2 linked regions of the Homo sapiens genome follow. The protein of the gene in region 2 interacts with the protein of the main gene of each other region in a biochemical or structural test. Each region holds a gene or a part of one and is shown on either strand. Other genes may lie near its edges.

Region 1 (8,215 bases), on a different chromosome or scaffold from region 2:
TGTCCATCACAGGCAAAAAAGAATATTATTGCTTCAAGAAGAGTGTCATCTAATTTTAGTAAAACATATGTGGAAAGTCAAATATTATTTGCATTAAGATGTATAACACGTTATTTCCAACGTTCATTAGATTATCTACCTTTCTTAGTTATCTGGTACTCCTAAACACCCAAATGTATGATTAGCTACAGCAGAAACTTCTTTACCTGGGAGTCCAAAAAAACGGATTTAAACAAGAGAATTATTGTAACCCCTCCCTCCCCCACCAATGTTAATCCACTTAAAAATAATTTAGATTATCATAACCAAGAATGCATTAGTGTTAAGATGTGGAGAAAGACTGATGGTATAATTTGTCAGGTTGTGATATTAAGGTGTCCAACAGTTAAGATACAGACAGGTAAAATGAATCAAACTGGACAATTACAATGACATCAAAGTGATTTCACTGGTAGTTTATTAGTTCTGCTGAGTTATACATTTTATTACGTAAGACGTGATTTAAAGCTTTAATTTTTTTCTTCATCACTTTTTGGAGTTGATAGCTAAGCATAAGAAATTAATCTACTATAATTCAAAACTCACTATTAGGTTAAAAAAGCAGTGAAAAGCTGATCCCCATCCTTCACCCCCAAATTCCTCTGAAAATCTGTTATTTGAGTAATTATGGTTTTTTATCACAGAGAGATACTTAGTCATAGGGTTACTAAAATTTTCAACAGAAGCAAATACTTAAAAAGAAATAAAAGTATGTGCATGTTTTCAAATTTTCATTTACTCTAATAAAAAATAACAATTATTCTGCAGAGTAGCATACGTTATAATTTTTCAGTGACAACATGGACCTCTTTGGTAGTTCAGATATGTTAAATCAAGATAGAAGATCATCTTTTTTGGTATGCGTCTCAACTTCTCTAAATTTAAGAGTAACATCTTTTGTGAATTTCAAACAATACAAGAAATGTATATCTAATAACTGAGGAATTTTCAAAGACATTTTTTTTACCTGTGTCCATACTTTGATTCAACTGTTGGTCACTTGTTTCTCCATCTTCACTGATATATCCAGGAGGTGGCGTTTCTACAAAAGTTTAAAACAAATCAAGCACAGCTGCAACATAATCTCACTACCTTTTCTCTCAGCTACCAGAGATAACCAATGAATCACTCCAAATAACAAATAATAATGTTATATAATATTATAAAAAGTAATATTGCATACTGAGGGTGTATAATTCAGGATCTTGTCCAAATTTTGCAGTGAATCCTTAACATCCACTTTTAATAAAATCCTACTCTCTGGACATACACATTATGTACGTATCTTGCTCATTCCTATATGTACATATTCTGGGGCAAGAGCCAAAAACGTAACTTTAAAAATGCCTCAGATCTGAATCAGTAGGCTGCAAAACCATCAGTAACTACAATTTTTTGTTGTTGTTGTTTAATCTAATGAACATCGTTATTTTATGAGTACTTAGAAAATTAAAAAACACACAAGATTTTGGATTATAAAAGTATTAAATAATACAGGCTTACAACTTACACTAAGTTCTATAGGGTAAAATATGGTAGAGTATGGTTCCGGATTGGTCCAGGCTGAATTCTATCTAAAAAGTGTGTTTCTCCAAGGATTCCTAACTGGTAAAGTCTAAGTGTTTGAAGCAGAAAATTCAATTCAAATATAGACTACTGTATAAAGAGGTAAAATGCTCCCTGAAAATAACCATTAGGATTCTAATATATTATTTCCAACATGTTGTCTGAATAAAACACTTATGTTCAGAAAGGTATCTGAATAGCTGAATAAACTGCATGTAAAATAAAAACATGTATACAATTTAATCAACTGTAATTCCAGGGAGGAAAAATAAGTTCAGAAGACTTTCATCAGTTTTACATTTACACTGAACAGTTTTGAGCGATTCAAGATAACAAAGACACATATCCAAACAATTTTAAAATTATCAAAAGAACGAGGCCAGGCGCGGTGGCTTATGCCTGTAATCCCAGCACTTTGGGAGGCCGAGGCAGGCAGATCACCTGAGGTGGGGAGTTCGAGACCAGCCTGACAAACATGGAGAAACCCCATCTCTACTAAAAACACAAAATTAGCCGGGCATGGTGGTGCATCCCTATAATTCCAGTTACTAGGGAGGCTGAGGCAGGAGAATCATTTGAACCCAGGAGGTGGAGGCTGCGGTGAGCCGAGATCACACCATTGTACTCCAGCCTGGGCAACAAGAGCAAAACACCGTCTCAAAAAAAAAAAAAAAAAAAAAAAAAGAGGAAGAGAAGATACAGGTTAAGGGTCTCCTTCAATAACCTTTTACAATATCTATTCAATAAACTAACCACAAACTTTAAGTATCAAACTTTTCATTTAAGTGTCAGTACCCCCAAATTTTTAAAACAAAAATTCTAAGAATAAATTATCTTCATATACTCAAAGAACATAAAAATAAGGGTACATATTATGCATATTTTAAAAGTTAAAGCTAATAAAGTTAAACGGCGCTAAGCTTTTTGAGTTTAACCTGTATTTCAAAGATCTAATCAGAAAGAAATGCTGAACCTTAAAATACGTTATCTTACTGTGTTTATTTTTTCCATTATTGTAATAAATAATAAAGCTATTAGCATTTTTGAGAAAATGTTAAAATTTCTTTTAAGTGGAATAAAATGTGAACCCTTTGGTTTTGCTGTTGCTTGAAACCGGATAAAGCCCCACTGTCCAGAAAAGCAAATGGGTATAATCCACTTCTGATTTTCTACTTTATAAAATACTCAAATCTCAATAATTAAAGGAATAAAAAAGAAAGGAAAAATGAGCCCAAACATCTTCACAAGTGAAAGCCACTAAACATTCTGGTGAATAGCCTTCCAAATAATTACTGGATATGCGTGTTGTCCCTAAGACTGCATGTTTATACCTAAGGTTAGTATTGCTGGCTGAATAACAGTAATTCCCACACTAACGACTTAAAATGCCTCCCCTTCCCCACACCAACGTTCACACAACTCCACTCCCTTTTCTACCTAGCAATTGCCCTGTTTCATAGTCCCGGGTTTTCCCTCCTCCTAGTGTTATCATACTACATCCCACCCTCTCCCTCTCTTAACTTCAGTAAGTTTGTATTTCCTAGCAACCCATAAAGCAGCTTTAAATCCTCTTCTGGAATAAAACAGTAATCAAAGAAATATACATTAAAACAATCAAAAACCACTTCCCATTTGTAAAACCAGCTATTTAAAAAAAAAACTTATCTTTCTTAGTTATCTTTTCTTTTTTTTCTTCCTTACATTTAAAAAATTATCTTCAATGAATAAGCATTATTTCCATGATGGATACATGAAAGAAATAATTGTTTAAATGTACTAAAACTGTATTTTAAGAATTTTGTAAATGCTCTTAAGTTCCTTACATATTTTTAGTGTATAAAATAAGAGTGGAATAAAAGAATATTACAAAAGGAAGAAAGAAATCGAGACACTACAGCTTAATCCTCATCCTAACATCATGCTGTTTCTGCTAGGGAGAAAAATCAACCAAACAAAAAGGAAAACATACAAGAAAAGTAACAAAGTATTAGTTGTTCTCCAAAAAAAAAAAAAAGAAACCATAAAAAACGAAAAGGCCAGATATCATATCGTGGAGTATTACTGGATCACATAATACATCAGAACAAAATTTGAGAACCATGTAGCTGAATTCAATTTTCATCAGAAATTACTGAGATGCAGACGAAACATAATTAAAGGAGGTTTTCTGACGTTCGTGTTATAATATGTAAGTGTTGCTATGTCTATAGAACTAAGTATTATATTTCTTATAGAAATGTTATATTTCTGTTAAATATTACCAAGTTATCTAAGAAAAAGTGATCATTGGGTGGATATTCAGTTACATGTGTTTGGGGGGTACTTTTCTCCTACACCATTTGTTTTGCTTACATTCTGCATCTCGCTTAGCTTCAACAACTAAGACAAACTTACTAAGATCTTTTCTTTTCTGCTTCTCACAGTACTTTGATTAAAGTCACTGCAAAAGAAAATGAAATATAAAGTAAAACTCTTCTCCAAACAAAACTGTTTAATGTACTAGGCTTATACATTTCACAAAATAATCACCCAACGAATCCAATTTTTCTATTAAAAACTCAAAAGCATTTTTAAAAAAGTGAAACCACAATTTACTAAAACTTGAATGCTTATGAACAAAATTTGTATCTATCCAAGTTTTAGGAGATTCAGAAGGCAAAAATACCTGGAATATAATTACTCTGTGGCTCAATTCCTGCTGGGAAGTTAGTGTTTTCTGGAATGGAGTGAGTATAGTCATCCAGAGGCGGAAGTTCTGTTAGGATCTCGGTGTGTCGGGGCACTAATACTGGAGGCAAAACTGAAAAAGTTCAAGAAATCCAAGTTAATGGCAAAGAGCAAAGGGGAGTGGGGGAACCTTTTTTAAAGTTTTCAACAAGAAGAGAAGTTGTAGCTTAATTTTTAAAGCTAGGGTCCACCTACTCGATATATACTAGTTACTGAGAAAATGACAAATCTGATTATGGCTCTAACTTAGGTAGTCTATTATCCAAATTTCCAAGTTCTAATTTATCTCAAACTTTTGGGAACAATGTGATCCTGGTAATATTATATTACCATAAAAGTTCATAAATCCCCATTGGAAAACTTAACATTGTCTTTATCTGTAAAATCAGATATAGGAAATTTTCCAAAAACGCAGCTACTGCTATATTTTTTAATAGTTTCAGGTAGACAGCTAACTAAATGAAAAGTCTTGTTACAAGCTTTACTAAACGGTGTACATACAAATGATGTCATTAAAGTACTTCTAAAAGCACTCCAAGTGCAAAATGCTTGAAAATGTTACTGCAGCAGGGACATGTAGAAGCACATCAGCATAGCGCTGAGCAGACTGCCAATCTACAGGATTTCCTGGATATGCACTTTCATGCCAAATCATATGCTATTCCAAGAAACAGATATGTTTTCTCATTAAAAATTTTTAAAAATAAAAAAATTTTAATTACCACCAAATAATATGCACAATTTAAGGTAATTTATTAGAATTTACACTAAAATTTTCCTGGGTCACAAGAGTACTTAAATATACTGAAGTTCAGGCATTTAATTCAAAACCAAGAAAAAAACTTGCAATATTCCTACCTGGTGTCTCAACTCTCTGATAGTGGTAAGGGTTTACACATACTTCATCCTTTTTAAGATTAAAAGCATATTCGCAGTTTTCAATTGCCTTGAGTTCATGATGACTGTGAAGATCAGGCCAGCGCCATAATCGGCAATATATAACATGTGGCAATCCTTTTCGATGGGATACCTGGAGACGACCATCAAGAGACCTGTTGGGAAGCAAGGGGAAAAGAAAGGAGGGAACTTTAAAAAAAAAAAAAAAAAAGTGCAGTCAAATGGGCTAAATTAGTACAATAAAAGCATAAAGAAAAGAATGACAGCCATTTAGTTAGTTTTAGTGAGAATCAAGAACAAAAATGTACTATTTAATGGATCTGATAAAAGTATGCAGCAGCACTAGCAGATGTTTCTTATAAATATGTCACATAAATGACTCAAATGCCAATGAAAGGCTAACAACTTGGGAAAAACTGATTTTTTAAAAAAGAGAGTTTATGCAGTTATACTTGAAAAACTTTGTCAACTTCTATGTTTAGTAAATCAAACTCATTTTAGAGATGCTTCTAAGGATATTAATTCTGGAGGTGACTGAAGAGTCAGAAAAGGAACTAGTGTGAAGAATGATAAATACCAACAATGATGTGATAGTAACTTCCTCAGACTACTGCAACTCTTTACCCAGTTGTGACTGTTTTGAGAACTGAGGTATATTTATGTAGTTCACAAATAAATGTGGATGGTGATGAATATGATGAGATGAAATGAACAAATACCATATACGCAAAAAAGAAAATGAAGTGATTAAAAAAAGTAACATAAAAATGAGTTAACCTACTGTTAATTGTGATATAAGGGGTTCATTAAGTATGTATTTATTAGTATAAAGATGAGATTCTGATAACAAGAAATTTAGCAAAACTCATCATGTATCTACTTAAAAATTAGGCCAACAACAGATTATAATCTGATCTCAAGCTAAAATAAATATATAGTTATCAAAATTATTATTCTTTAGGGGATACAGTAATTTAAAGAAGATTCAAACTAGAATTGCATTGATTAAAACATCAGCTGAAACATTTAATATATTTTTTATACTGGCAAGCAGATATTTTAAATGCTATGCCTTATTTTACATTAAGGAAACATCCTAGGCAAAATTATACTAAGCAACCCCATATAGGTCTTTCAAAATATACCCCCCTCCCACAAGATCTCTAAGATTCGACAGAGGGCAGAATATTCACCTGGTTTGTTCAGAGAAGCTGTAAAGGCCTGTTGTATCCCACTGATCTATCGTATTTGGTGTACTCAGTCCCCAAATTTCAGAGCAAGTGCTGTGCATAAATTGAAAAACAAAAAATTGATGTGAACATGGAAGCATGGTTATTCAAAATACCATGATGTAAAACATGGAGAATGTACAGAATACTTCCTTCACCCAGAAAATATACAATTGCTTCACTTTTTCACAGGCATGTAGTGCTGGTTACTATATTTTCTATATGAAGGAAGCCAATAAAATGGAACATGTGACTCCAGATAAGTCATGATTATGTTTTTAAAATGTGAACACCAACGCCCTCTAGCTCAATGAATCATACCTATAATGCCCTTACCACTTTCCTGTATTCAAAAGATCTAAAACCTCTGCCATCAGCTTTACTAAGTGCTTCATTTTATAATCCAGTTTTTTAAAAAATTATCTAAAAACAGATGTCAACTGATTTTTAATATAGAAAAAAATCCCAATAAAAATAGACATGCATCCACAGTTAAGATTTTCAGGTTATCTGGTCATGATATTTTTAAGTTTTACTGAAAATTATTTTGTTCTCATCTCTAGAATAAATAAAGAAATAGACTTTGAAGTCATTCTAATTTAGTATACCACCTTAAAAATTTTCTCCCACATTTCTCTCCAGAATATGGGCAGCTCAGAGATAATTCTCCCTTTTTCCCTACCTTTATTTCATTTCATAGTAACTTCTGGTCAGTGAGAGAAGGGAAAGAGAGCTTAAAAGGAAGTTTTGGAATGGAACTTTGACAGCCAATGTCTCAAGTACTAAGTTGTACTTTTCTGAAAAGTCCATTTCTTACATATTACAAAATCATCAAAACTTCAATGCGGATAAAGGAGTATTTCAAAACATCTTTTGAAAATGAATCAAGCAATTGATTAAATTTCATATTTACACATTGTTAGTGAGCTTAACTGGATCAACAGTTCAAAGGGCAATGGTGAGAAGCGCTGGCTTCCTGTGGCCAGGCAACAGAACCACCTGGCATCCTTGGCTTTAGTACTACAGGTGCTGTCACATAGCTATCAGGCTGCAGGAACACATCATGCCCTGCTTTGGGGGCTACAGTGACCCGACAGTTCAAAACAAAACCTGTTCTGAAATTTTCCAGCATCTCATTCAAGTATTTTATAGATTCTCTTGCTTTTTCAGGCTGCAAAATTTACCAGACTATAAAAGCCAGAAAAAGCCAGGTAAATTAAGGCTTAGACCTTTCCCTTTTTTCCAAAGATATACTGATTTAAAAACCATGACATTAATGGTTTATTTAAAAGATATTTTCAAATATCTATTGGAAACATATAGCATGATGTAGTTTAAATCACAACAGAATCACCTCAATTCTACAGACTTCTGAGTCTATTAAAGAAATGGTATACAGGAGACTATTCTTTGAAAATAATTAACAAAAGTGTAGCACAAGAGGCTATTCTGCTCTGTATCAGAACATTTCACTCAAGTTATTCTGGGACTCACATGAGAACCAGAATCTAAAATAGAGCATGAAGTTTACATTGTACTTTATTTAATCCTTGAAAGGAATCAGAGAAGAATAAACAGTAATTGTTAAGAACTTGCAATCAATCTAGAGGCAGACAGATCTAGACCCCAACCCTAATTCGGCCACTTTCCAACTGCTGCCATAGGGTATATTTAAGCCTCAGTTCCATCATTATCATGCCTAACAAAATTGGAAGGTTTATTTTAAAACATTAAATTTGCTTCTAGCTAGTAAAATC
Region 2 (8,031 bases):
GCCATCCCACGTCAAGAACATAGAGCAGGAGGCAACACGGGCAGGATGGGTGCCCCACCCCCAGGAGCATGAGGAGAGGAAAACCCGCAGGAGCTGGTGAACATTCAGGGAGCCAGGCGGAGGACACCACTGCCAGGGCCAGGCTGTGTGGCTGCCACTCAGGCCTAGAGGACGCAGTCACTCACACCGTGCACGTCGTCAGTATGGCCTGGGAATTGCTTTTTAATCGGTAAATGAAATTTCAGAGCAGTGCTGGGGACTTCAAAAGGGAAAGGCGGCTCGGAGGCATCCGCTGAGATGACCAGAGCCTGTCTGGCCTGTCTCTATGGCGGCCCAAGGACCCCGGCGCTCACAACCACAGGGAGAGAGAAGCCGGGTGGCCTGGGCCCTGCTCTGTGTCAGCTGTGACAACGAGGCCCCACTGGCCACTCCAATGGGCCCCCAGCAAAGCCCAGGAAGACAGAAAGACCACAAGCACACACATGACCCACAGTCGGACAAAAACAAACGCAGACACACCCTGCTCAACCGAGATCCTCTGCCATCAGCTCTGAAGACAGTGACGTGAGCGTGTCCCAGCAGCTCAGGCCTTGGCCACAGGTGACCCACTACGCAGCCTGCACGAGCCCACAATCCCCCCCGACATGTGGCTTCCTCCAGCCACAGGCACTGACGAGGGTGCGGCCACCCCAAAAAGAAAGGCCCCAGCCCACAGGGAGCGCCATCGGGCCCACCCCAACCAACTCCCCGTGTGACACGAAGGGCCCCAGCCTGCTACGTCTGTCTGCAGCTCTGCCACGAGCATCCTTCCCCAGCCCACAGGTCTGCAGGCGGCTGCCACCTGAGCCCTGGCCTGGCAGGGTCAGAAGCGCGCACACACAAACACACACATGCACACACACATGCACCCTCCGCAGCCCCCTCCGAGCAGAGGCGACAGTCCCTCGCTTCCATCCACAGCCCCTCCTCCCCACGATCTGACACTCTGCTGGAGGGGCGCCCAGAGAAAACCGGGCTGGAGCATCTATTCACAGATTTAGAAAAAAAAAGTTTGATGCAATAGCTGAATTAATTAGGCCTCCCAAGAATAGCTGAGCCAATGCAGCATTCTGTGTGTGCAATTTAATAAGCCTGGATATTTAAAAGAAAAGTTACAAATACTTGGGGAGGTACGCAACGGAAAGTTCCTGAGGACCCCACTGAGTAATTTCGGCACCTCGTGGCCTGGGAGCTGCCCATGCCGGATCCCATAGATCCTCCAACTGGCAAACAACAAAGCCAGGCCAGCAGCCTCCCTCTCCGGCGCACCCCTCTGCGTTTCAGAGGGAGAGAAGGAAATGGGTGAGTCCAAAGCAAATCGCAGGCCGCCAGTAACTCCAGCACGCGGGCCCAGGAGCCTGCTGACCAGGCCCCTCAGCCGGGTGCCAAATGGCCCTCACCCCACACGGCGGACTCTGGGATTTGGTCCCTGGCAGGCCCAGGGAGACCAACCAGCACAGTGCTGGAGCCGCCAAGTCTCGGGCCCCTGCCACTGAAGCCTGGACACCTGGCTTCATTTTGTGTCTGTGTCCCAAAACTTCAAGGCACCAAACAGGGAGCGGGAGCCAGTAACAAAACCAGGCCTCGCCTCACCCAAGCTCTGTCTCCTGGGGCCCAAAGGCAGGCAGCCCTCCGTCTTCGAGGCTGGGTGCCTTCGGGGCGAGGACAGCCACCTTCACCCCAACCCCAAGAAAGACCTGGGCCTGAGGCATCCGGGCCGTGGCCCAGCTGGACCTAACTTCCCTGACCTGGGGCAGGCCGCTTTCTCGGGAGCATGAGGCCTGTGCCTTCCTATCTGGGCAATGCCTGTGGGCCTGCGGGCCTTCCCCACACACCAGGCCTGGCCCCCCACCCCACCGCCACAGCCCGCACTCCAGGCTCGTCCTGGGGAACGGGCAGGAGGGCCTTCCTACCAAACTCTCTGGCCCTGCCAGTCGGAACACTCTGAATTTCCCTAAAACAAAGCGAAGACTGGAGACATGGGGCACGGCAGAAGCACAGGTCCCAGCCTTCGGAGACCAGAGCCTGTAGTCCAGAAGGGGCCCCCACCCCAAGCGCATCCTCCCCAGCTCCCAGGCCTGGGGCCACTCACCCGGGGCACCCGCCGCTTGTACTTGTTGCCATAGTCGAATTTCTCCTTCACGTCGTCCAGGCAGCGGCCGAGGCGCGCCTGCTCCTCCTTGCCCGTGTAATCCTGGCTCAGCAGGATGTAGGCCCGCCAGTTGGCCGAGTCGAAGCCCCAGTGGCAGGTCCGGTTCTCCAGGGCCTTGTGCGAGTGCACCACGAACTTGTGCGGCGGGTACATGAGGCGGCAGTCCAGGCACTGGATGCAGGCGGCGCTCGGGCTGCTGTAGAGCTCGGGCACCAGCAGCCCCTTACACTTGCCGAAGCACTCGTGGTACACGCGGACGCTGCGCTCGCTGAGCTCCAGGCCCAGCGCCAGGCTGGCGGCCAGCTCCTTCTTGCAGGGCGGCGGGTAGGCGCCGCCGTAGAGCAGCGCGTTGCACAGGCGCTCGGCGTCCGTCTTGGTGATGAGCCCGCACGAGGGCGCCGAGAAGGGCAGGATGCCCATGACTTTGAGGATCTCCAGCTGGTCGGCCGTGCAGCGCGAGCAGTAGATGTGGAGCTCGTCGCACACCGCGTTGATCTGCTGCAGCGAGAAGTCGCGCAGCACCGAGTTGAGAATCTGCGGCAGACACAGGCGCTTCTCGCCTCCCACCACGAAGCACGAGATGGTCTCGCCTTCCAGTACGGTCTCGCAGCGCTCGGTGGAGCGGTCGGACGGCATGAAGAAGGGCCCGGGCAGCACGGGCGGCGGCGGCTGGATGGCGGGCAGGTGCAGCACGGGCGGCGGCTCGGTGGCTGCGGGCACCGGCGCCGGCACCGCGGCCGCGCCCGCCTCCTTGGCGCTCTCCTTCTTGTAGGCCTCCTGCGCCCAGCGCGCCGAGAAAGCGGCCGGGCCGCCCAGCGAGCTCATGGAGCTCAGGTGGAACTGCTCCAGCGTCTTCTGCAGCCCCGGGTGCGGCTGGAAACAGCCGCGGCCGCCTGCCGCCGCCTCCATGGTGCGCTCCGGCTCCCCCGGCCGCTCCCGCTCCCGCGCGCCCGGGCCCCCCCGGCCCCCGCCGCCGCCCCGCGCGCCCCGGCGGCGCCCGCGGCCCCGACCCCGGCCGCCCCCCGCCGCCGGCTCACGGCCGATCACGGCCGCGGCCTCGCCCGGGGGCGCGAAGGGGAAGGCGGGCGGGGCGAAGGGGTCCCGCCGCTGGAGCCCGCCGCCGCCCGGGCCCGGCGCCACATCCACGCGCCCCGCGCCGCGCCCGCCGCCGCCCGGGCCCCCCGCGCGTCCCCCGCGCGCCCCCCGGGCTCTAGGCGCGGGGCATGCCCCGGCGCGCGCCGCCAACGCCAACGCCAACGCTCGCGGGCCCGGGGCTCGCGGGGGGCGCGCGGGCAGGTGCCGGCGCCGCGAGGCGCGAATCGCCGCGGCGGCCGAGGCCGAGGGGCCCGGGAGGAGCGGGGGCGCGGGCGCGGGGCCCGCCGGGCCGTCCTCGCGCGGCGCGCCGCCGCCGCCCCGCTCCTCCCACCGCGAGGCGCCCGCCCGGCTCGTCCCGGCGGCGCTGGCCGGCCGCGTCGCGCCCGCCGCCGGCCCCCGGCCCGCCCGCCCGCCGGCTCCGCGGCCCGCCCGCCCGGCTTCCGGGGCGGCGGAGGCGCCTCTCGCCCGCGGCCCTCAGAGCGCGGCGGCGGCGCGGGGCTCGGGGCGCTCGGCGCACATCCTCCCGGCGGCTCGCTCCGGCTCGGACTGAGCGCCCGGCGCTGAGCTCACGCCGCCGCCGCGCCGCCCCGCCCCGCGCCGCCCGCTCCGCCCCGCGCCGGCCCCGCCCCCCGCGCTGTTTGTTGCCGTGCGTCCGCCTCAGCCCTAGCGCTGGCCAAGAATGTGACCCGCTCCCCAGCCGGGCTCTTCCAGGAACGCGCGCTCCCCGCCCGGACTCGGCCGCGCTCGGCTCCGCTCGCCCGGGACTCGGCCACGCTCGGACCCGCCCTGCCATGACTCGGCTCCGCTCGGCCGGGACTCGGCTACGCTCGGCCATGCTCGACTCCGCTCGGCCCCGCTCGGCCCCGCCCGCCGAGGGCCGCTGGGCGCGGGCGGAGGCGGAGGCGGCGGTGGCGCCCGGGGCCCCCCTTCCGGCCGAGGCCGCTTCCTGCGCCGCTGGGAAGGCGCCCGTCTCGCCGCCGTCGGGGCCCAGAAACCCACAGGCCCCCGCCACGACCGCAAACCAGCTGGGGGCGGCCGGGGGGCCACGCCACGCACCCGGGGTTCTCCCAGGGTGGGACACCACACAGCGGGGAGGCCCCGGACGCCTCTGGGGTCCCACACACTACCGGGACGCCACACGGTGACCTGGGGTCCCACACACGAGGGGGACAGCGGCCACGCCCAGGGACCCTGCGCCGAGACGGGCACCGCGTCGCGTGACCCTGGCGGCGCAGCCCGGCGGCCCCCGCTGCGCCGTGGCCGGTGGCTCGGTGGCCGAGTGTCCGCGGCTCCCGGCCGCGCCGGCCCCGCCCCGCCCGCCGGCCCCTGGCGGAGTGTCCCTGCTGCGCGGGCCGGGGGCTTCGGGCCTGGGAGGGGCGGCGCCCGGTGCCCCAGACGCAGCCGGTCTGCCAGCCACTCCTGCCAGGTGGCTTATCAGGACTTCGGCCCCGCGGGGCCCGGCGTTCGGGCCGGCGAGACCCCTGACCTCCGCCCCGGGGCCGTGGAGCGCTGAGACGTCTTTCGGGGTCGGATCGGCCGGCCCTCCACGCCTGGCCACGCAGTGGGAGAGACTCAAGCCTTGGCAGGGCGGGGAGCGGGAAGCCCGGGGCCCCGAAGTTGGACAGTCGGCCGGGTGGTCTCCAGGGGAGGCAGCTTCCAGCGAGGCCTGCGGGCGCAGGGACGCAATGGTGTGTTTGGGGAGGGGCAGGGCTCGGTCTGTGCTCGCCTGAGGCGGAGGGACATGCCCCACGGGCCGGGGGTGCCCAAGCTGGCCTGGGTGCTGGGCGGAGGCGAGAGGGCCACGCCGCTGCAACCTGAGTGACCTTCAGCTGGGACCTCCTGCCCCTCACTTCCCCAGTGGAGGCTGGAACCTGCCTCAAACCAGCACTCCTGGGCGCAGTTCCTATCCTGGGGGAGCCGGCCCGGAGTCCCTGTGCAGGTCTTGGCCGGACCTGCGGCAGGGCAGGTGTCTAGAGAGGCAGCCAGGACCTACCTGTAGGTGACCCCAGGGCGGCTCCATACTCCCTCTCTCCGCTGCCTTGGGGGTTGTCTCCTTGTCCTCACACTCCACACTGTCCCCCGACTCTTCCCATTCACTCCGTTGGCCCCCACAATTGGAGGCCAGGCTTTCTCTGTGTGTTCACACACCAGAAAGCTGGGTAAGAAGATCATTTCCTTAAAAGTGATATTTAACCCGGCAAGGTGGCTCACGCCTGTAATCCCAGCACTTTGGGAAGATAAGGCAGGCGCATCGCTTGAGCCCAGGAGTTCAAGACTAGCCTGGGCGATATAGTGAGACCCTGTCTACAAAAAATAATTTTTTTTTTTAATTAGCCGGGCATGGTGGCCTGCACCTGTGGTCTCAGCTACTTGAGAAGCTGAGGTGGGAAGATTGCTTGAGCCCAGAAGGTTGGGGCTGCGGGGAGCCGTGCTTGAGCCTCTGCACTCCATCCTGGGTGATAGGGACACACCCTTTTTTTGAGACAGACCCTGTCTCAAAAAAAAAAAAAGGGTCAGCCTCAGTGGCTCATGCCTGTAATCCCAGCACTTTGGGAGGCCGAGGCAGGCGGATCACGAGGTCAGGAGATCGAGACCATCCTGGCTAACGGTGAAACCCCGTCTCCACTAAAAATGCAAAAAATTAGCTGGGCGTGGTGGTGGGCGCCTGTAGTCCCAGCTACTCAGGAGGCTGAGGCAGGAGAATGGCGTGAACCTGGGAGGCGGAGCTTGCAGTGAGCCGAGACTGCGCCACTGCACCCCAGCCTGGGCGACAGAGCGAGACTCCGTCTAAAAAAAAAAAAAGGATATTCAGTCCAGACGCAGGGGCTCACGCCTGTAATCCCACCACTTTGAGAGGCTGAGGCGGGTGGATTATTTGAGATCAGGAGTTGGAGACCAGCCTGGCCAACATGGTGAAACCCCCTCTCTACTAAATATACAAAAATCAGCCGGGCATGGTGGCACATGCCTGTAATCCCAGCTACTCGGGAGGCTGAGGCAGGAGAATCGCTTGAACCTGGCAGGTGGAGATTGCAGTGAGCTGAGACTGCACCACTGCACTCCAGCCTGGGCGATGGAGTGAGACTCTGTCTCAAAAAAAAAAAAAAAAAAAATAGAAAAGGGACTTATTTGTTTTCCTGGAGATAGTTTCGTTGGCCCACGTTTTGGACAAAACACAGCTAGTGTTGCACTTGACGTTGTCACTTCCTTCCATCTGGATTTGAATTCCATACAACTCAGTCAAATTGTAACTCAGAGAAGGTGGTTGCAGCCAGGCCTGCTGGGAAGTGTCTCCAATCAAGCAGAGAATTCCTCTGGCTCCTCTGGTGGACCAGGGGCTCTGTGCAGGGCCCCTAGCATGGGCAGTGCCCACCCAGAGCCTCTGCTTCCTTCTGTGCCTCTGGCTTTGCAGGGTCCTAGCCAGGGACCAACACTTTGTCCAGAGTGCGGACCCCTGGGAAGTAGCCATAGGTGTGCCATGGAGTGAAGGTGCGGGGACAGGTGAGGGCCTCCAGTTGGTCTCTGAAGCTACCTCCACCTTTGTGGACTCTTGAGACTTCCTTCCCCCAATATGTCAGAGCTTCCAGAGGAAGGCACCCACCCCACCAAGGGTCAGAGCAGCCACGCCTAGAGGGAGCCACCAGGGTCCACTTTTCTTCCTGAGCTTGGCAGGGAAGAGGGTGGGGGGTGTCTCCCGCCTGCTGGCCTTCCACCCTCCAGCCCCGCCCAGCAGCTGCCCAGGCCAGTCGCCCACGCGGGCCACCATACTGGCAGGCCGCGGGTTAAGGCTGCAGGCACAGCCACAGCGCGGAGTAGGGTGGGATGGACGTGGTGCCTGCCCAGAGAAGCCCTGGCATGCGGGCAAAGGCAGGGACCTCCCAGCTTTCTCCCTGGCCCCTACCACGGTGACAGGCTTGGTCAGCTAGTCATGAGTTTGTCCCCTTGTTCGATGAGCTCCTACCACTGTAGACACTGGGATCAGGGTAAGGAGACCAGGTTGTACCCCGTGTGGTTCCATTCTGGTGTGAGAGACAACAGTCAATCAACAAACCTGCTAGTACGGGAGCGAGATCTTTCAGATCCCCAAAAGGCGCGGAGTGGCTGGGGCTGGCTGTAGGCAGGGAGGGCCTCCTGGGAGGCTGGCCTTGGAGTTGAGACCCCCACCTTAAGGAGCCAGCAGTGTGGAGATGAGTTGGATGGCGCCCCAGGACCAGAAAGAGGAAGACACTGGCAAAGCAAGGGGTACCCCAAGCTTTGGGGGAACTTGGAAACCTTGGTGGGGAAATGCATCGCAGACCAGCTCTGCTCCACCCTGCCTTGCCCTGCCCTGCTGCCACCCACTCTCTCCTCCTCAGGAAGCAGAAGGAAGGCCTTGTAGCAGCCAGGCATAGACTGCCATTGGCAAAAACATGCTCAGTTACTGGGAAAGAAACCTTCAAATGTGAAAATAAAAATTGCTCAAGTAACATCAGCTTCGTATAATTTTGTTTTGTTTTTGTTTTTGTTTGAGATGAAGTTTCGCTCTTGTTGCCCAGGTTGGAGTGCAATGGTGCGATCTCAGCTCACTGCAACGTCCATCTCCCAGGTTCAAGCGATTCTCCTGCCTCAGCCTCCCGAGTAACTGGGATTACAGGCGCCTGCCACCATGCCCAGCTAATATTTTGTATTTTTAGTAGAGACAGGGTTTCACTATGTTGGCCAGGCTGGTCTTGAACTCCTGACCTCAGGTGGTCCACCTGCCTCAG

What was found. Proteins that work in one complex are often made in the same cells at the same time.
Region 1: the proteins of SKI (region 2) and SMAD2 form a complex in vitro, tested with the Homo sapiens proteins (4 studies listed by BioGRID).

The regions. Positions count from the first base shown.
Region 1 is NC_000018.10:47,864,053-47,872,267, forward strand, and holds part of SMAD2 (mothers against decapentaplegic homolog 2), read right to left. Parts: intron 6,513-8,215; coding exon 6,423-6,512; intron 5,385-6,422; coding exon 5,191-5,384; intron 4,406-5,190; coding exon 4,271-4,405; intron 1,082-4,270; coding exon 1,007-1,081; intron 50-1,006; coding exon of another isoform or gene 1-49. UniProt on the Homo sapiens protein: Receptor-regulated SMAD (R-SMAD) that is an intracellular signal transducer and transcriptional modulator activated by TGF-beta (transforming growth factor) and activin type 1 receptor kinases.
Region 2 is NC_000001.11:2,223,836-2,231,866, reverse strand, and holds the start of SKI (ski oncogene), read right to left. Parts: upstream 3,549-8,031; 5' UTR 3,101-3,548; coding exon 2,132-3,100; intron 424-2,131; exon of another isoform or gene 1-423. UniProt on the Homo sapiens protein: May play a role in terminal differentiation of skeletal muscle cells but not in the determination of cells to the myogenic lineage. Functions as a repressor of TGF-beta signaling.